Homo sapiens: one gene and its partners. The protein of the gene in region 2 purifies or fractionates together with the protein of the main gene of each other region. This does not show direct contact. Each region holds a gene or a part of one and is shown on either strand. Other genes may lie near its edges. The genes, in order: CAPNS1, CAPN1, FNTB and CAPNS2.

Region 1 (7,036 bases), on a different chromosome or scaffold from region 2:
GGAGACCCGTGGACAGAGCTTGTTAGAGTGTCCTAGAGCCAGGGGGAACTCCAGGCAGGGCAAATTGGGCCCTGGATGTTGAGAAGCTGGGTAACAAGTACTGAGAGAACAAAAGCTTGTGGGTCAGCAGGCCCCACAAAGATGTGACTGCAGACAGGATCGGCCCTGGGAGAGACCGAGGCTCCAGGTGACTCCTATAGCAAGGCAGTGAGGGGGCGGGTCTGGGGCTCCAGTTCAGGAATACATAGTCAGCTGCAGCCACTGGGGAGAGGAGGGTGGAGAGTGAGGACAGGGAACCCCAAGAGCACCAGCCCCTTTGCCCTCACCCAGGGACGGCTGGCAAAATAGGAGGAAGGGGACTGCAGCTCAGAGCTGGTATGAAGGGCTGAGGGGTGGGGTCCTCCCAGGCACCCATACCCCAATATGGGGGTCCTTACCTCCTGGATGTTCACCTGGATTTGTCCAGTGCCATCTTTGTCAAGAGATTTGAAGGCACCTGGAGGAGGAGATGCAGAGGTTTGGCGGCAGGGAAGGAAGGAGACTGGTTTTTGGCATAATAACATTACACAAATACATGGGATGACAATCATAGCAGCTGGCACTTCACTGAGTATTTACTGTGTGCCAAGCATGGGGTAAAGTGCTTTCCAGGTATTGGCTGATTTAATCCAACTCTGTGAGATAAGTGTCATTTTAAAATGAGGCACAGGCTGGGCGTGGTGGCTCACACCTATAATCCCAACACTTTGGAAGGCCAAGATGGGAGGATCACTTGAGCCGCCCAGGAGTTCGAGACCAACCTGGGCAACAGAGACCTCATCTCTGCTTTTTAAAAAAACTAAAAATTAAAAACAGGAAAAAAAGAAATGAGGCAGGAAGGGAGGGGCCATGCCCCAGGTCACATAGCAAGAAAGTGAAGAAATCAGGATTGGAATCCAATCTGTTACCCTCCTCAATAATGGCCTCTGTGTACTGATATCACCTCTGCCCAGCCCCAGCCTCCTACTGACATCTATGCTCCATCCTCTCCAGTTCTAAGCCTAACAGGCTACTAGAGGGAGGCTCTGCACACTCTACTTCCTGCCCCTAGAGTCTTACAGGTAGGTCCCCACGCCTGCCCTGAAACTTGACTCCATGTTCCCCACCCACAGGGAATCTAGACATGATGACTACACTATCTCCGCTCAGTTACCACCACCCTCAGGTGTCCATACCCACAGCGTCCTGCACACCCTGGCTGCCTTTCTTTCTTTTTTTTTTTGAGACAGAGTCCCACTCTGTTGCCCAGGCTGGAGTGCAGTGGCACGATCTTGGCTCACTGCAACCTTTGCCTCCCAGGTTCAAGTGATTCTCCTGCCTCAGCCTCCTGAGTAGCTGGGACTACAGGCGTGCACCACCACGCCTGGCTAATTTTTTTGTATTTTTAGTAGAGACGGGGTTTCACTATGTTGGCCAGGCTGGTCTCAAACTCCTGACATCAGGTGATCCGCCCACCTCGGCCTCCCAAAGTGCTGGGATTACAGGAGTGAGCCACCATGCCCAGCCCTTTTTTTTTTTTTTTTAGACGGTGTCTCTGTGGCCCAGGCTGGAGTCCAGTGGCAAGATCATAGCTCACTGCAGCCTCACCCTCCCGGGCTCAAGTGATTCTCCTACCTCAGCCTCCCGAGCAACTGAGACCACAGGCATGTGCCACCATGCCCGGCTATGTCTATATACATATATTTTTTTTTTTTTGTAGAGATGGAGTCCTACTACATTGCCCAGGCTGGTCTCAAACTCCTGGACTCAAATGATCCTCCCGACTATCAGCCTTCTTGCTGGTAGATCCAGTGGCTATTTCCTGGCCCCTCTTATGTGACTTGTGGCATCAACCTTGTCTGTCCACTCCCTTCACCTCCCTGCTATCTCACATACCTGCTTCTTTTCCTCTGTTACTTTTCATGCATTGTGGGCTCTCTGGAGGCCAAGGGATCTTTTTTTCTTTTTTTTTTTTTGAGATGGAATCTCGCTCTTGTCACCCAGGTTGGAGGCTGGAGTGCAATGGCATGACCTCTGCTCACTGCAACCTCCGCTTCCTGGGTTCAAGCAATTCTCCCTCCCTAAACCTCCTGAGTAGCTGGGACTACAGACACGCCCCCACGCCTGGCTAACTTTTGTATCGTTAGTAGATGCGGGGTTTCGCCATGTTGGCCAGGCTGGTCTTGAACTCCTGACCTCAGGTTTTACGCCCACCTCAGCCTCCCAGAGTGCTGGGATTACAGGCATAAGCCACTGCACCCGGCCTGGAGGCCAAGGGATTTTTTTTTTTTAAGACGGAGTCTCGATCTGTCACCCAGGCTGGAGTGCAGTGGCAGATCTCAGCTCACTGCAAGCTCCGCCTCCTGGGTTCATGCCATTCTCCCGCCTCAGCCTCCCAAGTAGCTGGGACTACAGGCGCCCGCCACCACACCTGGCTAATTTTTTGTATTTTTAGTAGAGATGGGGTTTCACTGTGTTAGCCAGGATGGTCTCGAACTCCTGACCTCGTGATCCGCCCTCCTCGGCCTCCCAAAGTGCTGGGATTACAGGCGTGAGCCACCGTGCCCAGCCGAGGCCAAGGGATCTTTCTAAAGCCAAACCTGACCCTGTCCTCCCTCTGCCTAGAACCTGCCATGGCTCCCCAATGTCTCTGGTAGAGTTTGAGCACCCCCAAACTTGGCACCCACAATCCTGCATGACCTAATCATGCTCACTGCTCCTACCTTCTCTTACTTAGCTCAGATCTCAGATAGATCCAAGTTCAAATTCTGGCTTTACAACTTCCTAGCTGGGTGACTATGAGCATGAAAATTTGCCTCCTTGAATCCTAAGTTCCTCCTTCACAAAATAAGGACAGTAATCCCCACTTCCCAGCCATGTCTTCAGCATTCAGTACACTAACACTCAGAAGGCCACATGCAATGGCTCATGCCTGTAACACCAAAGCTTTGGGAGGCTGAGGTAGGAGGATTGCTGGAGCCCAGGAGTTCAAGACCAGCCTGGGCAACATAGCAAGACCCTGTCTCTACAAAAAATTTTAAAAATTAGCCAGGCATGGCGGTGTGTGCCTGTACTCCCAGGTATTCGGTAAGCTGAGGCAGGAGGACTGCTGGAGCCTAGGAGTTGAGGCTGCAGTCAGCCATGATCATGCCACTGCACTCCAGCCTGGGCAACAAGAGCAGCAGACTCTGTCTCAAAAAAATAGAAAGAAAGAAATCTAACAAAAAGCATCAGAAGCCCCATCTTCTTTCCCTTCTAGGCCTTTGCACAGGCTGTTCCCTCAGCCTGCAACAGTATTCCCTACCTTCTCACTAAGTTCTCTCCTCATCCCCTCAGGTCTCAATGTTCCCTCTCCAGTGAGCCCTCCCTGACCCCTTGGGCTGCATCAGGTTCCTCCTGGATTGGATTTGCCCTCTAGGCTTCCCCAAGCACAATCTGAGCACGCTCTGCTCACTCTTCCCCTCACCAGAGCCCTAGACCCTCGGCCTGTGCTGCCCCCATCACAACCCATCACTCTGCCCTGAGCTTCCCCTCTCCCAGCCATCACCAGTCTGAACTGTCACTGTCTGGGGACTTGTGTCTCCTCCACCAGACTGTGAGCTCCATGAGGGCAGAAACTGGAACTGATTCAATCACCACTGTGCCCCTAGCATCGCCCACCTCAAAGTCAGGCTTAGAGGAGACCTTGGTCCATAGAGGTCATAGGAATCCCCACCCAGGAAGACAGCTGGGTTGTCACTCACGGAACATGGCGTCCAGCCTGACCAAGCAGCTGATGAAGTTGTCAAAATCCATGTTCCCACTTTCATCTGAGTAGCGTCGGATGATCATGTTATAGAGATGCTCATTCAGGTGGAACCCTAAGATGGATGTAGTCCTTCAGGTGCGGGGGCCACATGGCCCAACCCACTCCCATGCCCAGGAGTCAGGCCCAGACCAGCTGAGTAGAGGTTTTCTCACCCATCCCACTCCCAGCCCCAGCATGTCCCTGCCAGCCATACCTGCTGCCTCAAAGGCACCTGGGAGTTCACTACTGCAAATGGTCCCTGATCGGTCAGTGTCGAACTGTTTGTATATGGCCTGTGAGGACAGAGACATTGGGTCCAAGTGAGCATTGTGGGGCATAGTGTCTCCATGGCTTGGGGGTCTGGGTGCCAGGGATTTCAGAGGTTTCTACACACCTGCCACCTTTTGATGTTGTTCCACAAGTACTTGAATTCCTCAAAGCCCAGCTTGCCTGTGGTGTCGCTCTGGTGGGAGGGTGTTAAGAAGAGTGACAGCTACACCCAGATGCATGCATCACATGCACTGTGGACACGATGGTGATACAGCAAGCAGGGCAGCCAGGGCTGAAACTCCAGCTCCCGCTTGGTCCTAGTCATATCACCTGGTGTGCGGTTTTATTTTTCATTTTATCCATACATATTGTCACTTACATTTCTAAATAGGGATTCTCTTTAAACATAACCATGAGGAATTATATTCAACTACTCTAAAGTACAAATTCCTTGCCTGAAGAGTTGTTAATTGCTCATTCAGAAAATTCTTAATAGGCCACGCACGGTGGCTCCCGCCTGCAATCCAGCACTTTGGGAGGCCGAAGCAGGCGGTTCACTTGAGGTCAGGAGTTCGAGACCAGCCTGGCCAACATGATGAAATCCCGTCTCTACTAAAAATACAAAAATTGGCCAGCTGTAGTAGCGCACACCTGTAATCCCAGCTATTCAGGAGGCTGAGGGAGGAGAACTGCTTGAACCTAGGAGGTGGAGTTAGCAGTGAGCCAAGATGGCACCACCGCACTTCAGCCTGGGAAACAGAGTGAGACTCTGTCTCAAAAAAAAAAAAAAAAAAAGAGAAAGAAAAGAAAATTCTTGACAGTAACTCAATTTCATAAAAATGTTAGGATATGTGAAAAACAAGTGTGTGACCAGGCATGGTGGTTCATGCCTGTAATCCCAGCACTTTGGGAAGCCAAGGCAGGTGGATCGCTTGAACTCAGGATCCACCTGATGTCCACTCAGGAACATCACTTTCTCACTAAATCCTTGGGACACCAGTTCTACCAGGACTATTTCCAGAGAAGAAAACATTCAAAGCTGAAAACTCTACCCAAGATCATAGTTAAGAGCTAATGTGTACAGACCACATACTATGCGCTATACACTGTGCTAAACCTTTTGGATGTAGTTCCGATTCGGTATCACCATTATCACTCACCCATTTTACAGAGAGAGAAACTGAGGCACAGAGCGGTTCAATAACCTGGTTAAGAGGTAGAGTTGGGATTGCTTTGCTCTATGCAATATGTCTGTGATTACATGACATGTATATTATGTATGTGTCTGTTTGCCCTATGTGTTAAATGTGCATGAGGCCAGGCGCAGTGTCTCAAGCTTGTAATCCCAACACTTTGGGAGGCCAAGGCGGAAGGATTGCTTAAGGTCTGGAGTTTGAGACTTGCCAGGTCAATATAGTGAAAGCTTTTCTCTATAAAATATTTTTTAAAACAAAAATAAATAAAAATATGCATGTATCCAAGATCAGCTAATGGCTGGCCCATGTACAGATAACACGTGTGTCCCTGTGCACACTGCCTCATACACCTTCACGTATGTGGGTGTGCTCTTAGGTGTGTGTGTGTGTATATGCGCATGTGGCTGTTATAAACGTGGGTTCTCAAGCCCAAAAGACCTGAGTCCACAGACTGGAGTGCAGTGACGAAACCTCTGCTCACTGCAACCTCCGCCTCCCGGGTTCAAGCAATTCTCCTGCTTGAGTAGCTGGGACTCCCGAGTAGCTGGGACTACAGGCGTGCACCACCACGCCCAGCTAATTTTTGTTATTGTTATTTTTCTTTTTTTTTCTTTTTTTTTTTTTTTGAGACGGAGTCTCTCTCTGTCGCCTAGGCTGGAGTGCAGTGGCGCGATCTCGGCTCACTGCAAAGCTCCGCCTCCCAGGTTCACGCCATTCTCCTGCCTCAGCCTCCCGAGTAGCTGGGACTACAGGCGCTCACCACTGCACCCGGCTAATTTTTTTGTATTTTTAGTAGAGACAGGGTTTCACCGTGTTAGCCAGGATGGTCTCGATCTCCTGACCTCGTGATCCGCCCGCCTCGGCCTCCCAAAGTGCTGGGATTACAGGCGTGAGCCACGGCGCCCGGCCTATTTTTATTTTTATTTTTATTTTATTTTTTGAGACAGAGTCTGGCTCTGTCGCCCAGGCTGGAGTGCAGTGGCGCGATCTCGGCTCACTGCAAGCTCCTCCTCTCGGGTTCACGCCATTCTCCTGCTTCAGCCTCCCGAATAGCTGGGACTACAGGCGCCCGCCACTACGCCCGGCTAATTTTTTTTTTTTTTTTGGTAGAGACAGGGTTTCACTGTGTTAGCCAGGATGGTCTCAATCTCCTGATCTCGTGATCCGCCCGCCTCGGCCTCCCAAAGTGCTGGGATTACAGGTGTGAGCCACCGTGCCTGGCCAATTTTTGTATTTTTAATAGAGATGGGGTTTCACCATGTTGGCCAGGCTGGTCTCAAACTCCTGACCTCAGGTGATCTGCCCACCTTAGCCTCCCAAAGTGTTGGGATTACAGGCATGAGCCACCATGCCTGACCTTTATCTATAACTTGAGACAAATGACTGCTTCTTTCAGGAAACTGAGCCTCAGTTTCCTCTTCTGTAAAATGGAATATAATAATTGTGCCTGTCCAACAGGGTGGTTATGACGGTTCGGTCACTTTATATAATTAAAGTGCCAGCTGTGACAGCTGGCATTGTTATGATTTACCGCCACATGTCTGCAGGTGACTGTGTTCTGATGAATGCATTTCCACATCTGTGGATATGAAAGCTACATGTTGGCTTCCCAAACATACTCTCAAAAAACTCTCTGTCCACCCAGGGCCTCTCCCACACTGCCCCCAAGGATACATCCATCACGGCCACCATGCTGCGACATGTGTCAATGCCAAAACCATCAGTCTTCAGATCAGGGTCTGTGGGTAACAGGTTGAAAGTCAGA
Region 2 (6,615 bases):
CCCATCCCCTCTTCCTTCCCCCAAACCACTCTTATCTCTGGTAAGAAAATCCCAGATCCCAGCAGGCCCTGGAGCGGCTTATGTAAGTGCAGGTGTCTGGGTCACAGGGGCTCCCCACAGAGGGACCTGAAGGCGGCTCTGTGCTCGGGGGAGCTCTCTGGGGGGCCGGGTGTGTGCTAAGTAGAGGTTTGAATTTCAGCCAGAGCCTCACCTCAACGGGCCGAAGTGTGCAAGAAAGGTAGGGGTCAGGCCTCCTGGGCGGCGGGGAGGGCATGTAGGATCAGCAGAGCCATGTGGGACCTCAGCTGTGTGGCCCTGTCCCTGCAGCTAGGGCCCCTCCTTCCCAACCTCCCAGGGCCAGGGGTGGTCTTGCCCAGATACCCAGTACTCCAGTAGGGGTTCAAGCTTCAAGGTCAAGGGGAAGGAGATGGAGGGGTTGGAGGGGAGGGGTGAGCTGAGGCCACGAGCTGCCCCCATGGGCCGGGGCCTGCAGGTGCCCTCCAGGCAGTAGGCTGGGGAGAAACACATCACAGACAGATGTGGGGCCTTTTATTATTTGGGGTTCCTCTATATGGAACACGGGACCTCCCCACCCCAAGCCTAGTGCCTCTGGCACCCCCATAACCAGTACACAAGTCCCTGAAGAGTCCCCTTTAAAATCACTAATATAAAAAAGGAGCGAAGGAGGGAAGGCCGACCGCCCACAGGCTGGGCAGCTCCTGGTCGGCAGCAGGGCCAGGGAAGGACAGAGGGGGCGTTGGCTTCGGCGCAGGAAGGCACAGGCGTTCCCAGCCCCGGGGCCTCCCCGAGCCGGGAGGCGGCTCCACACGCCTGGACTGCAGACTGTGTCGAGCTAGTGGTTATAGTTTATAGTCTGCAGGCAAGGCCAGGCCGGTGGTGCTGAGTGGGTGGCCTCTGAAGTGGGGAGAGGGGACACATCAGGATGCTGGGGAAACCCGGGGCTGTCCCGAGGCAGGAACAAGCGAAAGCTGCCTTCCTGGCTTGGCAATGGGTGGGGCCCAGGGAGTCCATCCCGAGCCCATGGCTGGCACAGGCAGGGGCCACACAGTTCTGCCCGGAGCAGATGAACGATGGTGGCTGGGAGGAGAGGGGACAGGAGGACGAGGCTGCCTCTCTGCTCCAAGGAAGGCACTTGCAGCTGGGGTGGCCTGGTGTGGTGTGGTAGGAGGCGAGGCTTGGCAGACGAGGAGGGAGGGGAGCACGGCAAGGGGGACCGAGTCCCTGCCTCATGCAAACATGGTCAGCTGCAACCACTGCGGGAGAACAGGCAGGTCAGCTGGGGCCGCAGAAATGGCTCCCTGGCTTCTTCCCCACCCAAACCCCAGGTCCAGCCCCCAACTCCACGTCTCAGGAGCCACCTCAGGAACCTCATGGAGGGGTTACTTTCTTACCTCCTCCACCCCTGGGAAACCAGAGTGCTGCTCCCATAGGGGCCTCCAAGGGCCTGGACCTCCCCTCCTGCTCCTTTCCCAGAATCCAGACACCCCCACCCCAGCCTTTCAGGATTCAGGTGGCCCGGGCTTCAGGGTTGGCTCTGAGGCCCAGGCTCATTTCCAGGAAAGGACAGGGAACACTGGCCAGATAAGAAAATTCGATCGCCTGGAACTCTTCCCCAACCATGGGCCCAGGGAGGTTCCCACCTTAAACAAGTCAAAGGTCACAACTCCATCCAGATCTGTGTCCAGAGTTTTGAAAAATCCTGTGTGTTCAAGAAAAGGTGATACAGGGCTGAAAACTCAGTGGGATATTCACGCAGGGCCAGGCCTGGCCCCCTTCCTGCCTGGTCCCTCTCTACCTCCCCACAGTACCGCAAGCTGACACCCCTTGAAGCTGGGAAGCTTCACCCCTTCCTGCTGCCTGAGAAGCCACTGTCAACTCCCTCCCTCCCCGACTCTCCTGGCACTCAGCCAGGGCCCCCCAAACCCAGACCCAGGCCTCTCTGGCACACACCCACAGCACTGGCCTGTATCTGCTAATTCACCCATCTGTCATTCCCCCCAGCTCCTGGGGGACGCGTTTGGGACGGAGCTGGAGGGTGGGAGGCAGTTGGGGACACTCACGGAACATGGTCTCTAGCCGCACCAGGCAGCAAACGAAATTGTCAAAGTCGACCGCCAGGTCGGGCTCCGAGTAGCGGGTGATGATGAGCTCGTACAGCTTCTTGTTGAGCTTGAAGCCTGGTCCAGGAGAGTGAGTGAAGGTCAGTGAGGCGCAGCCCCTGCCCAACAGGATGGGGGAGGGGTTGGGTCCCCAGGAGGGGGCTGGGGCTAGGCAGGGTGCTAGTAACCGTGGGGAAAAGGACAAGATGGCTGTTACCATGTCACCACTAGCACCCCAGGGACAAGGGCCTGGGGCATAGGAGCAGTGGGGCTACCTGTCCTGGGCCCCACAGGTGCCGTCAGCCTTGGAGTCTCACCTGCCGACTCAATGGCCATCCGCATCTCGTAGGCACTCATGCTGCCCGACTTGTCCAGGTCAAACTTCCGGAAGATGGACTGAGGTGGCGGCAGAGGGTGAGGGCCAGGCTGAGTCACCCGGCCCTTCCCACCTGCCCGGCCCGCACCTGCATGACTGAGGTGAGTGGGGACAACCTACCAGGTAATTCCGGATGCGGTTCCACAGGATGTTGAACTCCACCAGGCCCAGCTTCCCATTGCCATCACGCTGGGTGGCCGTTAAGAAGGAAATTCCATCACTTAGACCAGTCATGGGAGAGTGGGCAACTGTGCAGAAGGGGAGATGGCCGCCGAGCCGGCAAGTCGACTTGGGGCTGGGTGAGGAGAAGCAGCAAAAGCCATGTACAGTCAGCCCACAGCCGGGCTTGCCTTATTCTCTGAGCTGGGCTGCAGTGGAGTGGGCTGGGGAGGGGTCAGAAATAGCACCAGCCTCAGGGTCAATGGGGACCCAGGTCTTGCTCCACCTTTCACTTGACACAGGTCTGTGCCTCAGTTTCTCCCTCCCAACCAACAGGAAGACGTCCAGGGAGACATCTGAGCATGGGGCACTGTGTGTCCACACTCCGCATGGCTCTGTCCTGTTCTCTGTGCTGTCCTGGGACAGTTCTCCCAGCACCGATACCTCCACCCAAAACCCCACTCAGGAGACAAAAGCAAACGGAAGGATACATCCATGAGGTTCACCATGCTGCGGCACGACTCTAGGCTGAAGCCCTTGGTCCGCAGGTCTTTGTCTGCAAGAAAAACCAATTCCAACATCTCCACCTAGTGAGCTTCCTGCACCTGCCCCTGCTGGGAGCACTGGGTGGGGCAGAGTCAAGGACGCACAAATCCTGACGAGTGGGTGCAATATCTGGCAGAGGAAGTGGGCAGGATTGTTTGTATCATCAGGAAGTACAAGTAAAGTATTTTAGCAATCAAGCCAAAGTCCCAACAGCCACAATTAGTCCAAAGTAAAAAGAAATGAGTGTGAAACAGAAGAGCGAGAAATTGGGTAGAAAGATGGGGCAGGGCAGGGCTTGCTGTAGGCTAGGAGGGTAAGCAGTGCTTCACTAGCAGAGAAGAGGAGGAGAAAAGCTCTGCTTAAGGAAACCGTGTGGATGGAGGTCAGTGGCAGCAAAGGGGAGGGGAGGGGATGAGAGGCCAGCAGTTGTCTGCCCTGGGGAGTGAAGCCAGTCACGTGGTGTTCCCCAAGCCACTCAGCCTGGCCCAGGAGGCTCTGGGAGGAAAGGTAGACTTTTCTTTGGCACTAAGGTGCTGCTCCTGCTTTTTTTTTTGAGACAGGGTCTTGCTCTGTTGCCCAGGCTGGAGTGCACTGATGTGATCACAGCTCACTGCAGCCTTAACCTCCCTGGTCTCAAGCCATCCTCCCAACTCAGCCTCCTGAGTAGCTGGGACTATAGGTGCATGCCACCACGCCCAGCTAATTTTTGTACTTTTTTGCAGAGACAGGGTCTCTCCATATTGTCCAGGCTGGTGTTGAACTCCTGGGCTGAAGCGACTCCTGCCTCGGCCTCCCAGAGTGTTGGGACTACAGGTGTGAGCCACTGTGCCTGGCCAGGCTGCGCTGCTAATCCCACAAAGGCACAGCACCCGAGCACAGGGATTATCAGGATGGCAGGTCAGGAGGAGGAGTATGGGATGGAAATGGCAGGGAACTGGGCTCAGAAAAACTGGAGGATTCCCCGACTCATGCAGACCAAGGGATGAGGTTCAGCTCAATGTGTGAGCAGGAGCCTGGATTCTGATGTGGAAGAAATGGTGGGGTGGTGGGACAGCCCCGCGGGGACTCACGTTTGCTGATGATCCTATTGAGGATTGTCCGCAACTCCTTCACGCTGATCTCCATGTCCTGGGGAGAGAGAGGAGGTGGCACCTGCCCCAGGAGAGGGCTGCCCCTCACAGGCCCCTCCCAACCTGCCATGCCCCAACCTACCTCCCCTGCCAGCTGCCTGAAGAGGGCCTTGAAGTTCTCGTCAATCTCCTCTTCTGAGAGCACTTGCTGGACCGAGAAGGGGAGAAAGCAGGTAAGAGAGGCCCCGGCCCTGCCCGTGTGGAGGCAGCTGGAGGGAGGGCTGAGGTCACATATCTGCTACAAGTCACTTCGCTTCTCTGAGCCTCACTTTTCTTTTCTTTTCTTTTTGAGATGGAGTTTCACTCTGTCACCCAGGCTGGAGTACAGTGGCGTGATCTCAGCTCACTGCAACCTCCGCCTCCCGGGCTCAAGCCATTCTCCCTGCCTCAGCCTCCTGAGTAGCTGGGATTAAAGGTGCCCACCACCATGCCCGGCTAATTTTTGTATTTTTAGTAGAGACGGGGTTTTGCCATGTTGGCCAGGCTGGTCTCAAACTCCCGACCTCAGGTTATCCGCCCGCCTCAACCTCCCAAAGTGCTAGGATTACAGGCGTGAGCCACTGAGCCCGGCTTGAGTCTCACTTTTCTAATCTGAAAAGGGAATCTCGTTCCTGCCCTGCCCTGCCCCGCCCCATATCCAGCACTCATGTGACCTAAATGAAGGGGATGCTGTTCAGCTCAGTGAGTAAAAGGCAAGAGTTTGGGCCAGGTGCGGTGGCTCACACCTGTAATCCTAGCACTTTGTGAGGCCGAGGTGGGTGGATCACTTGAAGTCAGGAGTTTGAAACCAGCCTGACCAAAATGGCAAAACCCCGTCTCTACTAAAAATACAAAAATTAGCCAGGTGTGGTAACGTGCGCCTGTAATCCCAGCTACTCAGGAGGCTGAGGCAGGAGAATCACCTGAACCCAGGAGACGGAGGTTGCAGTGAGCCGAGATCACGCCATTGCACTCCAGCCTGGGTGACAGAGTGAGACTCTCTCAAAAAAAAAAAAAAAAAAAAGGCAAGAGTTTGGATCCCTACTGTATGGCCTCAGGCAAGTTCCCTAACCTCTGTGAACCTGAATTTCCCATTCAGAGGAGGTATGGTAACAAGACCCGGACAGGGTTGATGTGGGGAGGAAATGAGGTAACACAGGTGAAGTGCTCAGCACAAACCCGCCACCGGGTGAGAGCTCAGGGCCTGTGCCATTAGTATCACAGGTCCTCTGCAAACTGTAAAGTGCTGGGCGGATGAGGGATTAGCACTACTCCTATGGCTTCCACCAGGAGGGGATCTTCCCTGTTAGCAGGAACTCAGGGGACAGGACACCTGGGTCCCCATCACACACCCAGGGGTGAGGAAGAGAGGAGGACGGGGCCTGGTGGGGTGGGACCACGCACCTCATCGGGGAGATTGGCCTGGATCTGGTCATCCAGCTCCCTGCAGAGAGTGGGGAGGAAAGGAGCCAGTCAGAGGGGGACAGCAGAGGGCCTGAGAGGGGAGGCTGGGAGAGGGGAGAGTGGCAGGGGCCAGTCCATGACTCACACAGTCCCAGCACTCTTCTCTGAGAAGAAGCGCAGCACGAAGTCGCCCTCCTTGTTGGGCTCGAAGGTGGAGGGCACCACCACATACTCCCCGGGTGGCAGGCGGAAGCGGGTGCTGACCTCTCGCAGGTTGATGAACTGCTCTGAGCGCGCCCGAGACGCATTGGCCAGGAAGAAGTCACGCTTCAAGTGTACGGCCGGCTGGCCCACCAGCTGGTGGGAGGGAGGAGGGAGCAGGGCTGCAGCTGCCCACTCAGCCCACCCTCAGGGGCCACCCCCAGACCCAGACTCCAGGCTCCTTGTCCTGGCCAAGGGGCTGGAGAGCTGGGGCATGGCTCACTCACAGCCTGTGTGACCCTAACAAGACATTTTGCCTCAGTTTCCTCATCTGTAAAATGTAACAACCCTACTCACTGCAGAGGGTAGAGGAGAGGAGCACCGGATTGCAGATTAGGCATGTGTTTCAATAACACTGTCATTATTATCACTGGGAGCTTTCCCCAGGTCAGGTACTGCAGGGTACTCGGCACCTCATTTGCTGTTCTGCTGTTACACCCATTTTACAGACACAAACACAGGCTCGGAGCTTAAGCAACTGCTCAAGGGTACAGAACTCTCAGCCTGTCTAATGCCCTGCTCCTGACATTGCTGGACCGCCCTAGTTGGCACTTACTTGGTGTAGATGGCAAGGCAGGAAAAGCCTCATGTGTACATGTCAGACAGGGGCTCTGAGGACCAGGGCTCAAATCCAGCTCCC
Region 3 (8,026 bases), on a different chromosome or scaffold from region 2:
TCCCCTCTATCCCAAGGTGTTACTCTCCACAGCGTTTCTAATTAACATTTTATATTGAGATAGCTATAGATATTAACTCTTTTAATTGACTGCCTCATTGGCCTAGAAACAGTTTCATAAAGGCATCAACTTGGCCTCTTTTGTTTAACAACTTATGCCGAGTGTCTAGAACAGTGCCTGGCACGTAGAAGGCGCTCAAGTATTTGCTGAATGAATGAGAATCAACGAATGGAACAGACGACTCACAGCTAAGGACTCCTTCCACTATTTATAGGTTTAACTCCTATTACCAAATTATTGCTTAACAAATAAACCGAGTCTTCTGATAATCAGATAGGAAGCAGGTAACAAGCATTTATTTTTTGTTTGTTTTTTTTTTTAATTTGAAAAGCTTTCATCTTAAATAGACACAGGGTCTTGCTATGTTGCCCAGGCCAGTACCAAAATCAGTATAGTCGTTTTTTGTTTTAAGAGACAGGGTTTTACTCTGTTGCCCAGGCTAGAGTACCGTGGCTCGATCATGGCTCATCTGTGAACTTCTGAGCTCAAAAACAATTCACCCACCTCAGCTTCCCAAGTAGCTGGGACTACAGGTGCATGCCACCACGCTCAGCTACTTTTTTTTTTTTTTTTTTTTTTGGTAGAGACAGGGTCTTGCTATGTTGCCCAAGTTGGTCTCTTGGGCTCAGGTGATCTTCCCGCCTCGAACTCCCAAAGTGCTGGGATTACAGGTGTCAGCCATCAATTTGTTTTTACTGGCAATGGCACAAAATTGAGCTATCAGTAAATGGAAGCTTTAGTTAAAACTGAAAGAGTACTAGTATATCCTCTGTAAACAACTCCTCCTAACAAGGTTGTTACTTTTGATGAATGTATCATTAACCTACCAATGTGGTAGGTCTCTAAACCTCAGTCTTCTCATCCATAAAAAGTGAAAGGATTGAATGATACCACATATGGAGAGCATTTAGCACTGTGCTGAGACTCAATAAATGGTCACTAACATGATTATTAAAACAGTGAGGAAGGCCACAAAAATGAGATACAACATTATCATCCTACTACCTGAAACTGTTCATCCTAGACTCTAATAATGTGTGCTGGAATAACAACATGAAAAAGAAATATAAGATTCTTTACTGTCTGCCATACCGTTGGGTCTAGATTTGAAAGATACTCGCACCAGGAGCAGTGGCTCACGACTGTAATCCCAGCACTCTAGGAGGCCGAGGAGGGCAGATCACTGGAGGTCAGGAGTTCAAAACCAGCCTGGCCACATGGTGAAACCTGTCTCTACTAAAATACAAAAATTAGCCAGGCGTGGTGGTGGGCGCCTGTAGTCTCAGCTACTCTGGAGGCTGAGGCAGGCGAATGGCGTGAACCCGGGAGGCGGAGGGTGCAGTAAGCCAGTGCATCCCAGCCTGGCAACAGGGCGAGACCCCATCTCAAAAAAAAAAAAAAAAAAAAAGGCAATCCCATAGTCTAAGGTCAGATAATAAGTAAAACACTTGACCTGAATCAACTCAGCAATCCATCATTTAGGAATTCTGCAAAGATCCTGTAGGTTTTTCATCAATGGGAAATTTCTTTACAATCTTTTGCAGTCAGCCTTCCCTGGGACACACTGGTAGGCAAACCAACCTGGAGAATTAGCTAGATTCGAGAGGTGAGGATTTCCTTTGCTACCCTAAATTCCATGAAGTTTAAATCTCCAGTTAAAATATTTTCTCTGCTACTTTGTGAATAACCACGTATCAAGCCCTTGTTTCTGTTATAAATTTATAATTCTATTTAGTCATAACTGTACAATAAAACAATTATTGTTACTAATTTTGCCAAAGTACAGGCTTCCAACTTAAAGTAGGAAATACAAAACAGGTCTCTCCAAGGTAAAGCCTGGAGACTGATCTCACTAAGAGATCTTATTTCAGTAAGCAGCAGAATGTTCATTTATTAGTGTTAAGAATTATCCTAACCACTTCTCCTAGGGACAGATGGATAAACAGTTCCACATAGCAACCTTGGGAACAATTCCAATTAGGGAATAAGAAGAAAAACAAAACTATGGTTTTGGGCATATGAATATATACTCATTCGCCAAACACTTTTCAAAATGATAGGTTCGATCCTACTTCTAGGCCTTAGGGAATGATTAGTAGTCCAAAATCCATTCTTTCTATTAGATCACTTTCCAAACTGTTTTCCTGCCTGTCCCCCAACCAGGCTCCTGGTCAGGAGCTGTTTTATTTCCTTGTACTTCCATCGTTTAATATTGTGTCCGACACGTAGCTGGTGCTCAAATGGCTGAATGACTACCAAAATGCCCACCCACGAGGCGGGCCCCCAAACCTGGCACTGTAGGTCAAAAATTAAACAGATCGTGAAACGGCATGACAGCAGCCTGGCCCTGCTCTCTGCCTCCAGAAGCTGAGGGCAGGTTGGGAAAAGTGCACTATGCACCCCAGAACCTCCCGAAGTACTGGCAGAACAGAGTGGGCTGTCCGACCCGCACGGGCTGCCTCTGTCCTCCAGGCATAGAACACGATTCTTCTCGTTCTTTAGGGCAGAGGGGACTCGGCTACTGCCCTCTCCTCCAAGCCCAACCTTGAAACGACCCTTCCCCAAGCTGGCCGCGCAAACGCTCCACGACGAAGCCCAAGCCTGGGCGCCCGGAGCTTCCCAGAGGAAAGGCACCGCGGTGCGCTGTGGGAGTCGTAGTTCCCCGGTGAGTTCCGCACCCGGGCGGCCCTACGAACGGGACTCGCGCTCCCAGAACACATCGCGCGGGCGCCTCGCCCAGTCCTGCCACCTCACCTGTTCTATGGACGTGACTGTTTCCACCGAGTCGTCCTGCAACCGCTCTCGCGCGTGCTCGGGCCTCAGACTGTACAGCGGCTCTGACCAGACGGGGGAGGAAGATGGAGGGCAATAGTAGGTGAAAGAACTCGGAGAAGCCATGATCAGGAGAGCAGCAGACAGTGTGTAGGACTCTGCTTCGTTAAGCAACAACGCGCATTGAAACTCGAGCGGGCTAAAGCGCTACGGCGAGCGGATAGAGGCAAAAAGATTTTGAACGCGAATGTCTCCTCCCGCCTACCCGTCTTTCGAGTGAGTTACTGAGATGCTGCCGCCCCCCATTGGGCAGAGGAGCTGCTGCAAGAGCGTAGAGTCCTGAAGCGCAAGGGTGTCTACATCCGAATTTCATTTCAGCGAGATGGCGTAGGACGCCTCGGTTTGTTACGCAAATTGTTAAAGAACTGTAACATTCTGCTAATTCTCACTTAATTGTAATGCAATTGTTTGCAATTTCAGGTGCCCAAGAACCCAATGAATGTTAAGTTTGAAAGCATTTCTGACAGCTCTACTGATTTGCCTCAGTCAGGCAATTACTAAAAGAATTATTGTGCACCTTGGGGTACTTGACAGCCTCCCAGGAGAAGGCAGCAGCTGCTCAAACGTGCAAGGACGCCGTCTCAGTATCACTCAGTGATGGAGGGAGGGGGGTATTATGATTTTCTCCTGTCTCTTGGAGGTTACACTGCAGTAGCGAGAACTGAAATGCAGTACAAGGAACAAGGATAAGTGAAATAGACAGTCAGTCCGCAGATATTTATGGAACACCTGCTATGTGTCAGGCATTGTGCTAGGTTCTAGGAATACAAAAGTGAACAAAACGAAGTCCCTTCCCTTGGAAACCTTACATTCTAAGAAAATCGACAGAATTGAATGTATCCAACGCAATAAATATATGAAGACTTGTGATAAATGAGATGAAGGAAAATAACAGGGTCTATGAGAGAGACTAAAGGGGTAAGAAACTAATTGAATTGTATGGTCAGGCCAAGCCTCTCTAAATGACCTTTCATTTGAGATCCGAAGGATGACGAGGAGTCATCCAGAAGAACAGTATGGGAAAGAACTCCTGAAAAAGGAAGAAACAGCAGCTTTTAGAAGACATGTGCTGGGCACGGTGGCTCACGCCTGTAACCCCAGCACTTTGGGAGGCTGAGGCAGGAGGATCACTTGAGGAGTTAGAACATCCTGGGCAACATAGCAAGACCTCATCTCTATTAAATATCAAAAAAATTAGCCGGGCGTGGTGGCGCATGCCTGTAGTCCCAGCTGCTCGACAGGCTAAGGTGGGAGGATCTCTTGAGCCCAAGAAGTCGAGGCTGCAGTGAGCTATGATTGTGCCACTGCACTCCAGCCTGGGTGGCAGAGCGAGACCCTGTTTCAAAAAAAAAAAAAAAGCAAAACAAAAAAACAAACAAAAACCATAGGCTCAAGTGACCCTCCTGCCTCAGCCTCCTGAGTATCTGGAACTACAGATGCTCACCACCACGCCCAGCTAGAATAAAAGAAATTCTTATTGATTCTTATGGAGTGGACTTACTCATCACACTTGCCTCCAGAACAACCAAGTTTAAAGTTGTGATTTTTAGGAAAACGCTGCTACCTTTGGACAAGCAATAGAAGAGAATTTATTTTAGGGCATGCATCAAAAGTACTACACCAAAAATTATAATACCAAGAGATTAAACTGGGGGAGTTGTATGTAGGAGATTATAGAAGGTATGATAACAGACATTCCGGGTACACTTGGAGACAAGCTTTACTTCCTGCTCAGAGCACTTCACTCTGTTCCCACTCCATTCCATGTCACATGTCTAGGATCCAGGGATTATAGACCAGAGTGACATTTGACAACCAGCCATTCCCCTGTTCTCAGTCTCTGGTAGTAAATAGAAGCACTCACAAAAATTTCAAAGATGAGGCTGGGCTGGCCTAAAGACCTCAGGTGGATAAATACTACCACCATGTCCATTTTAGTGGTACTGTTGCTGAACTAAGACCTAGAGGCACCAGAATATTACCAAATCTGGAAATAAGGGGACAGTATGGGTTAGGACCCATGGATAAGGCTGCACAATGTGAAATGGTCTCATTATACTGCCCCCTGTATTGGCATCTTACTGTCTTTCCCTTAGTTATATTTTGGGAAATAAATGGTCTGATAAGGTCAGGGTTATATCTAAGGATTCAGCCTTTGTCACAAAGAGTTTCTTTGCAGGAGAGCTGGAAACTTAACGCTTCAATCCTGAAGACTGTGCTATTGAAAGAATAGCTGGGACAGTTTTGTGACAAATTGTTGCATCTGTCACAGATGCACCTAAAGCAATTGCAAACTGTATTTTAGAAATAAAAATTCATCTCTGAAATTCAGTCTCCTCTGCAGTGGGATCCAAAAGATGTGAATAGGAACATGGGCAAGAGTCTCCGGCAGGATAGTGTGTTCTCATTCAATTAATGTTTATTGAGTACAGGGTAAGTGCTGGGCACTGAGCTAAGTGCTAAGGAGACAGCAGTGAACAAGCCAGACACAGTCTCTGCCATTATGGGTCTCATGACTTACCAGAAAAAACATTAAACAGTAATGACAGAATTGACTCTTTCATGACAGTTGGGAGAAATGGGATGAGGCAGAAAGAAGCATGGAGTGTGTGAGCTTGCATGATGGGGGGACCCTAAGGTAGCCTGGAAGGTCTGGAAAGACTCCCATGAGGAAGTGAGTTAATTAATCCAGGGGATGAGAACATCCCAGGCAGAGGAAACCCAGTGACAACACCAAATCAAGTGAAACCAGCAATGAAAAATATGTGGGGTTTGTACTCCATGTAAGCATCAAGAAGACCTGGATCAAATAGCCCACTAGTTGTCCCTCCTCTTGGTTTAATAAAACCACTCATTCAAGAAGCAGAATGAACATAAATATTAATGGTGCTATAGAGAATGATATATTTAGAGAGAAAACTCTTAGTCATGATAATAGCAACTCCAGCTTGGACTGCAGATGGTTTATGTTTATTTTACTCACATGCCTGATACTCTTTTCTAAATTAAACTGATCGTGTTTCTTTAAAAATAATATTAAATGTGGACCGTGCTGTTTTATACTTTTAAGAGCAAGAAAAAGAAAAAAGTAATGGTCTAAATGAACCCCTAGAGGTCGCTTCCGACCCTGGAGTGCGTTTAGGGAGTAAGTTTTAAAACTGCTCTCACCGTTCTCCCTGTTTTCACTCATACAAGCCGTATGTCGGAATGAATTGTTTCCTTTAATATCTTGTGAAACTGTGTAGTAATACATATTGGAACATTTGGAAAATGGAAAGAACTCATCTATTATCCCGCTAGGTAATTAACTTCCTCCCCAAGTTTACTGCCCACCATCATCTGTGCCCTCCTACTCGGCGGTCCTGTCCCTCCTATTCCCCTAGATGGAATGACTGCCCCATCTCCTACCTAGGACCAGGTCATCTCCCTCCCCTCACGCGCCACCCCCCAAAGACTGTCGCAATTCTCCCTTTCCTTTCCTAAAACACCAAATTTTTCCTCTACTTGATCATCCAGATCTCCCTCAAGCATGCCATTTTCTCATTCTTGGCAGCGTGGAGGGTGAGGGGCTTTTTTTTTTTTTTTTTTTTTGAGACAGAGTCTCGCTCTGTCGCCCAGGCTGGAGTGCAGTGGCGCGATCTCGGCTCACTGCAACCTCCACCTCCCGGTTTCACGCCATTCTCCTGCCTCAGCCTCCCAAGTAGCTGGGACTACAGGCGCCCGCCACCACGCCCGGCTAATTTTTTTTTTTTTTTTTTTTTTTTTAGTAGAGACGGTGTTTCACCGTGTTAGCCAGGATGGTCTCGATCTCCTGACCTCGTGATCCGCCCGCCTCGGCCTCCCAAAGTCCTGGGATTACAGGCATGAGCCACCGCGCCTGGCTATGAGGGGGTGGGGGGGGGTGCATCTCTAACCCTCTTGATTCCACTCCTTCTCCAGCTACCTCCCGATGACTCATTGGCGGAGACCCTTGAAAGATTTGCTACTACTAACGTCTCCAGGTCCTCTCTTCCAACTCTCTCAAGCCCATTCTAATCAGGTTTTCCAATCGTTTCTTATCAACTCTCCATTAAATTCCATATCGCCAAATCCAAGGGCCAGGTCTCAGTCCTGATCTCAAGTCTTCCTTCTTGACTTCCCAGCAATATTTGCACAGTTGATCATTTCCCTTCTTGAAACACATTGTCCTTGTGGTGCCTCACACTGGTTTTCCTCCTTCCTTGCCTTTCTAATATCTTGGATACCTTAGCTTGGGGTACCCCAGGATTCAGTCCTCAGACTTCTTATCTGTCTGCACTAACTTCCCTGTCAGCTCAGGCAGTCTCAATGTTTTAAATAACACTTATAGGTTGAAAACTCCCTAATTTGTATCTCCAACCTGGATCTCTCCTGAACTCCAGAGTTCATGTCTAATGTCTATTTGCATTTCCACTTAGATCTCCAATAGGCATCTCAAACTTAACATATCCACAACAGAGCTGCTGGTCTTCCCTTCCAAACTTGTGCACTCAGTCTCCCCGATCTCTATTATGATAACTCCATCCTTCCAGTTACTCCAAATACCTTGGAATCATTCTTGCTGCCTCTCTTTTTCTCACTCCTTGTAAGTTCTGTTCTAAATATATCTAGCATCTGATCACTGCTTACCAATCCCACTGCCAGTGTCCTGGTCCAAGCCACCATCATCTGTTACTTGGATTCTTACACTAATCTCTTAACTGTTCTCCCTCTTTTCACTCTTGTCCCCCTGTACCCTAATACAAACTTGCTATAGACTGAATGTTTAGGTGCCCCCAGTAGTCATATGTTGAAACCTAATCCCCAATATGAAGGTGTTTGAAGGTGGAGCCTTTGGTAGGTGTTTGGGTCATGAGGGCCGAGCTGCCATAAATGGGATTCATGTCCTTATAAAAGAGACCCCACAGAGCTCCCTCACTCCTTCTGCCATATAAGGACACATAGAGAAGGCATCACCTATGAGCCAGGAAGCAGGCCCTCACCAGACACCGAATCTGCAGGTGCCTTGATGTTGGACTTTATTTCTGTTGTTGACAAGGTACCCAGTGTATGGGATTCTGTTCTAGCAGCCTCAAAGATCCAAGACAAAATGAAAAAGCCAGACTGAACTTTTAAA
Region 4 (5,707 bases), on a different chromosome or scaffold from region 2:
TACAAATGTATCAAAACAAAATTGCTAGTGCTTTTTTTTACTAAAGAAACAGAATTAAAGAACTTTAGAATTTTAGATAGTAGCTCCATCATTTAAAAAAATGCTACCCTTATATAAAACTGCTTAATTTCATTGTCTGAACCTGTTTCTTTATGGTTAAATAAGTTTCCTAAAAAGCACTTTTCATTTTTTTACATAATGGGAAAACCAGGTATAAAATTACAAGAAAAACAGATTTTGAACCTCTCTCCTCAACTTTTTAAAATGGAAAATGTATCTCCTGAGGGCTTTCTTGATTTATTCTAGGATTAAAAAAATTCATTCTTAACAACAATAACAACAATAATAAAGTTCCTACTCCTTGGAATTTATTCACTAAATAAGCAACACCTTTTAAAATCTACTCCATTAGAACTCTACCCCACAACCTCCCCACCATATATATGCAAGTCCATATAAATCCAAATCTCAAAAAGCTGATATACAAACCACTCAGAACATTTTTCGTGAAATATCTGTTTTAATTCAGCAGTAAAAGGCAGCACATGATCAGAAATATGTAGGGTTGTGAAAGAGCTTGCCAGGAAATGAGAGCTGTTGCACAGGGTATCAGCAACTGTGTACAGCTTGGCAAGGTTTTCAGTCCTGTCCTCCAGGGAGGATCTTGACTTCTCAGTTCCCACTTCAGGAATACATGGTCAACTGCAGCCATTCTTTGATAGACACTTGAATCAGGCCATCTCTATCTCTATCCAGAGACTTGAAGGCACGAAACATGGCATCCAGGCGGACCAAGCAGCTGATGAAATTGTTAAAATCCATATCTCCATCTTCATTAGCATACCGGCGGACAATCATTTGGTAAAGTTGTTCATTTAGCTGGAAGCCTGCGGCCTGCAGAGCTCCCCGCAGCTGAGAACTTCCCAGAGACCCAGAATGGTCCCTGTCATACTGCTTATAAACACACTGCCATTTCTTGATGTTGTTCCACAGATACTTAAATTCTTCAAAGCCCAGCTTACCAGTCGTGTCACTGTCCATGACAGACACAATGCTCCGGCAGGTGTCAAGACTAAAACCGTCAGTCTTAAGATCTTTGTGCTTAGAAAGGACTTTGTTGAGAATATTCATCAGATCAGTGGCACCCACCTCCATGTCTGGTCCAGCCAGCTGTGTAAATTGTTGCCGAAATCGCCTAACTTCCTCACTTTCTGAGGCCTCCACACTGGTGAAATGCTGCTGAGTGGGAGGCGGTTCTGGAGTATACTGAGCTGCTGCAGCCTCACTGATAAAATTCACAATTCCTCCAACTATCCCTCCAATATTTCTTCCTCCTCCTTCTCTTCTCTGACCACCTCCTCCAAAGAGGCCTCCAAGAGCTTCTCCAAGACCTCGATCTGCTCCTTCCAATAGAGCCTTTGCAAGAAACATGCTTTCAGTTTAACAAGCAAATGCGGCAGCAATCTTAGAGATGGTATGAAAAAAGATGAAATGGAGTTCAAGTAGTTTACATGTGGAAGAACTGGCTTTTCTTTACCTGCTTACACTGCACCACGCCCCATGATGTGATGTTTCACATCCTACTGAAGATACCTGAGTTCCATGAGGTCCTAGCACCTGCCATATTTTACAAGGCCTCAATAAAATTGTTTTCACTCTTCCAGATACTTATAAATTATAGTATGTAGGACACCTTAGGATAATAGTTTTAAAGAAAAAATATTAAAGTATGCATTTTTATGTCATTGATTTCTTAGTCCTCTGTCTCAGCACCTAAAAAATGATGTGCATTTTCCTAACAGGAAAAAGGTAAATGATGCAAGGAAATCAAAAATTTATTCTCTAAGAAATATTTATTGTTAGAATAGAATTGAAGAAATCTTGGGCATTGGAAGAATATTTAATCCTCTTCCTTTAGCAAAGATTCTCAAAATCCAGTAGTCTTAAGAAAAATTTAGAAGGGAGATTTTTAAAATGCAAGGTCCTGAATTTCCACTCCCAGAGATTCTGATTCCATAGGGCTGCTGTGGTGTCTGTGATCGACATTGCTAAAATCTTTTTTGAAATGTAACATTCATGTAAAAAATGTATCATATAAATCACAAATGGATAGCTCAAAGAATTTCACAGACTGCACACATCTCAGAGGCCTCTTCATACTTCTTTCTAGTTACTTCCGTCTTCCAAGGATAACCACTGTCCTGACATCTAACACCATAGATTTATTTTTGCACCTTAAATAAATTAAATCAGACAGTACAGACTCTTTCATTTATTCCTTTTTCATTATAAAAATGTTAAATGTTTTAAAATTGTGATAAAATACACATGCCATAAAATATACTATTTTAACCATTTTTAAGTATAGAGTTCAGTGGCATTAAGTATATTTGCATTGTGAAACCATCACCACCAGCTATCTTCAGAACTTTTTTCATCTGGCAAAACTGAAACTGTACCCATTAAAGAATAACTCCCATTCTCCCCTTCCCCCACCCCTGGTAACCATCTCTCTATTTTCTAGCTCTATGATTTGACTACTCTGCATGCCTTATATAAGTGGAATCATACAGTATTTGTTCTTTTGTGACTTGCTTATTTCAATGAGCATAATTTCTTCAAGATTCATCCATGTTGTATCATGTGTCAGAATTCCCTTCCTTTCTAATGATGAATAATATTGTATTGCATTAATATACTCATTTTGTTTTTCCATTATCCCATTGGTGAATACTTGGGTTGCCCTTTTGGCTATTGGGAATAATGCTGCTATGAACATGGGTATACAAATATTTGTTTGAGTCTTTGCTTTCAATTCTTTTGGGTATATACCAAGAAGTGGAATTGCTGAATCATATGATAATTCTATTTTTATCTTTTTAAGGAACTACCATACGCTTTTCCTTATTGACTGTACCACTTACATCCCCACCAGCAATACACAAGAGTTCCAATTACTCCATATGCTTGCAAACACTTGTTATTTTCTCTTTTGTTTTGTTTTCTAATAATAGCCATCCTAATGGCTGTAAAGTGGTATAACATTGTAGTTTTGATTTGCATTACCCTAATGATTAATGATGTTGAGCATCTTTTAATGTATTAATACTTACTGACCAAAGAAGATCTTTGGAAAAATGTCTATTTAAATCTTTTGGCCATTTTAAAATCTGGTTATTTGTTGGGTTTCTTGTTGTTGAGTTGCAGGAGTTCTTTAAATATTCTAGATATTAATCCCTTATCAGATATATAATTTGTAAATATTTTCTTTCATTCTGTAGGTTACCTTTCCACTCTGTTGTTAGTGTCCTTTGATGCACAAAAGTTTAAAATTTGTATGTGGTCATATTTATCTATTTTTCTTTGGCTGCCTGTGCTTTTGGCGTAATATTCAAGAAATCATTGAGAAATCCAGTGTCATGAAGCTTTTCCTCTGTTTTCACTGAAGAGTTTTATAGTTTCAGCTCTTATGTTTAGATCTTTGATCCATTTTGAGTTAACTTTTGTATATGTGTAAGTTAAGGGTCCAACTTCATTCTTTTGCATGTGGATATATAATTTTCCCAGCACTATTTGTTGAAAAGACCGTCCTTTCCCCATTGAATGGTTTTGGCATTCTTGCTGAAAATCATATGACCATATACACAAGGGTTTCTTCTGGGATCTCTATTCTATTCCATTGGCTTATATGTCTTTCTTGAAACCAGTGCTGCACTGTTTTGATTACTGTAGGTTTGAAGTAAGGTTTGAAATGAGGAAATGTCAGGCTTTCAACTTTGCTATTCTTTTTCAAGATTGTTTTGGCTATTCAGTGTCCCTTGAAATTCCCTATGAATTTTAGGATTGATTGTTCTATTTTTGTAAAGAAACATTGGGACTTTGAAAAGGATTGCTTTAAATCTGTAGATCACTGTGGGAAGTACTGACTCTTAATATTGTCTTCTAATCCATAAACATGGAATATCTTTCCATTTATTTGTCTCTTCTTCAATTTCTTTCAGCAGTGCTTTGTAGTTTTCAGTGTACAAGTCTTTAGCTTCCTTCTTGAAGTCTATTCCTAAGTATTTTAATTTTTTCTATGCCATTGTAATGGAATTGTTTTCTTAGTTTCCTTTTCAGAATTGTTCATTGTTGGTGTATAAAATGCAACTGATTTTTGTGTGTTGATTCATATCCTGTAACATTGCTAAGTCCCTTAATTAGTTCTGTGTTTTGTATGTGTGAGGGGTAATCTTTAGGGTTTTCTACAAATAAGATCATATCATTTGTTAACAGAGATAATTTTACTTCTTCCTTTCTATTTCATATGCCTCTTATTTCTTTTTCTTGCCTAACTGTTCTCGCGATGATTTCCAATACCATGTTAGTAGAAGCATGAGAGTGGGCATCCTAGTCTTATTCCTGATCTTAGAGGAAAAGCTTTCAGTCTTTTCATCACTGAACACAATGTTAGCTATCAACTTTTCATATATGGTGTTTATTATGTTGGGGCACTTTCCTTCTAGTTTGTTGTGTGATTTTATCAGGGAAGAGTACTGAATTTTGTCAAATGCATTTTCTGCATCTGTTAAGATGATCATGTGATTTTTCCCCTTCATTCTGAGAATATGCTGTGTTACATTAATTGATTTTCATATATTGAACCATCTTGCATTCCAGGAATAAATCCCACTTGATCATGGTGTATAATACTTTTAGTGTGCTGTTGAATTGTGTTTGCTAGTATTTTGTTGATTTTTGCATCCATGTTCATATGGCATATTGGTCTGTAGTTTTCTTCTCTCCAAGTGTTTTTATCTGACTTTGGCCTCATGGAATGAATCAGAAAGTATTCCCTCTTCTTTAATTATTTGGAAGAGTTTGAAAAGAACTGGTGTTAGTACTTCTTTCAATGTTTGGTGGAATTTTCCAGTGAAGCCAACTGGTCCTGGGCTTTTCTTTGTTGGGAGGTTTTTGGTTACTGATTCAATATCTTTGCTAGTTATAGGTCTATTCATATGTTTTACTTCTTCATGATTCAGTCTTGGTAGGTTGTGTAGGAATTTGACAATTTCATCTAGCTTATGCAATCTGTTGGCATACAGTTGTTCGTAGTACTCACTCATCATCCTTTTTATTTCTGTAAAATTGGTAGCAATGTCTTCTCTTTCATTTCTGGTTTTATGTGTCTAGCTTTTTCCCCCCTCAACAGTATATTTTTGAGATTTGATTTTATATTTTTAATAAGCATCTTCAGAAGTCAGTCTGTAACAGGTAGCCTGGATAATACTTTGAGAAATCCTACCTTTAATACTAGTTATAGTCAGAGTACAGGTCCTCCAGAGGTTATTGGAAGTTCTACTGGGGAACTTGGGGAAAAGTAGCTAGGACTTAATGATTAAGTCATTATATTACTTAGCATTTGGGGGTCTCAATTTCGAATCTACAAAATGATAATAATAATATCGCCCTTGCTTACTTCAAATGATTCAATCTGATTTATTATGTATCAGGACTTGGGCTCAGTACTTAGGTTACAAAGGTGAATAAAGCAGGATGGCTGTGCTCAAAAATCAAGTAGAACTACAGGAAACTGGTATAATTATAATATGAAGTCTGTGTTCACATTTCTACTATCAATACTAATCTATTATATTTGTATATATATGTTTTAGTATTTAGGTTTCATTGAATTCCTCTGAAAGATACAAATGTATTTTAGATAAGG

The links.
Region 1: the proteins of CAPN1 (region 2) and CAPNS1 purify together in Homo sapiens (co-immunoprecipitation; 5 studies listed by BioGRID and IntAct, with this or other methods). This does not show direct contact.
Region 3: the proteins of CAPN1 (region 2) and FNTB purify together in Homo sapiens (affinity purification with mass spectrometry; 3 studies listed by BioGRID). This does not show direct contact.
Region 4: the proteins of CAPN1 (region 2) and CAPNS2 purify together in Homo sapiens (affinity purification with mass spectrometry; 4 studies listed by BioGRID and IntAct, with this or other methods). This does not show direct contact.

Annotation. Positions count from the first base shown.
Region 1 is NC_000019.10:36,143,038-36,150,073, reverse strand, and holds part of CAPNS1 (calpain small subunit 1), read right to left. Parts: intron 7,011-7,036; coding exon 6,946-7,010; intron 4,269-6,945; coding exon 4,200-4,268; intron 4,099-4,199; coding exon 4,020-4,098; intron 3,879-4,019; coding exon 3,762-3,878; intron 497-3,761; coding exon 438-496; coding exon of another isoform or gene 262-437; coding exon 235-261; 3' UTR 1-234. UniProt on the Homo sapiens protein: Regulatory subunit of the calcium-regulated non-lysosomal thiol-protease which catalyzes limited proteolysis of substrates involved in cytoskeletal remodeling and signal transduction. Essential for embryonic development.
Region 2 is NC_000011.10:65,205,919-65,212,533, reverse strand, and holds the end of CAPN1 (calpain-1 catalytic subunit), read right to left. Parts: intron 6,072-6,615; coding exon 5,860-6,071; intron 5,755-5,859; coding exon 5,715-5,754; intron 4,480-5,714; coding exon 4,414-4,479; intron 4,330-4,413; coding exon 4,272-4,329; intron 3,212-4,271; coding exon 3,147-3,211; intron 2,686-3,146; coding exon 2,617-2,685; intron 2,517-2,616; coding exon 2,438-2,516; intron 2,199-2,437; coding exon 2,082-2,198; intron 1,721-2,081; coding exon 1,662-1,720; intron 1,275-1,661; coding exon 1,248-1,274; 3' UTR 528-1,247; downstream 1-527. UniProt on the Homo sapiens protein: Calcium-regulated non-lysosomal thiol-protease which catalyzes limited proteolysis of substrates involved in cytoskeletal remodeling and signal transduction. Proteolytically cleaves CTBP1 at 'Asn-375', 'Gly-387' and 'His-409'.
Region 3 is NC_000014.9:64,981,886-64,989,911, reverse strand, and holds the start of FNTB (protein farnesyltransferase subunit beta), read right to left. Parts: upstream 3,018-8,026; 5' UTR 2,959-3,017; coding exon 2,815-2,958; exon of another isoform or gene 2,799-2,814; intron 1-2,798. UniProt on the Homo sapiens protein: Essential subunit of the farnesyltransferase complex. Catalyzes the transfer of a farnesyl moiety from farnesyl diphosphate to a cysteine at the fourth position from the C-terminus of several proteins having the C-terminal sequence Cys-aliphatic-aliphatic-X.
Region 4 is NC_000016.10:55,562,481-55,568,187, reverse strand, and holds CAPNS2 (calpain small subunit 2), read right to left. Parts: upstream 1,505-5,707; 5' UTR 1,432-1,504; coding exon 685-1,431; 3' UTR 501-684; downstream 1-500. UniProt on the Homo sapiens protein: Calcium-regulated non-lysosomal thiol-protease which catalyzes limited proteolysis of substrates involved in cytoskeletal remodeling and signal transduction.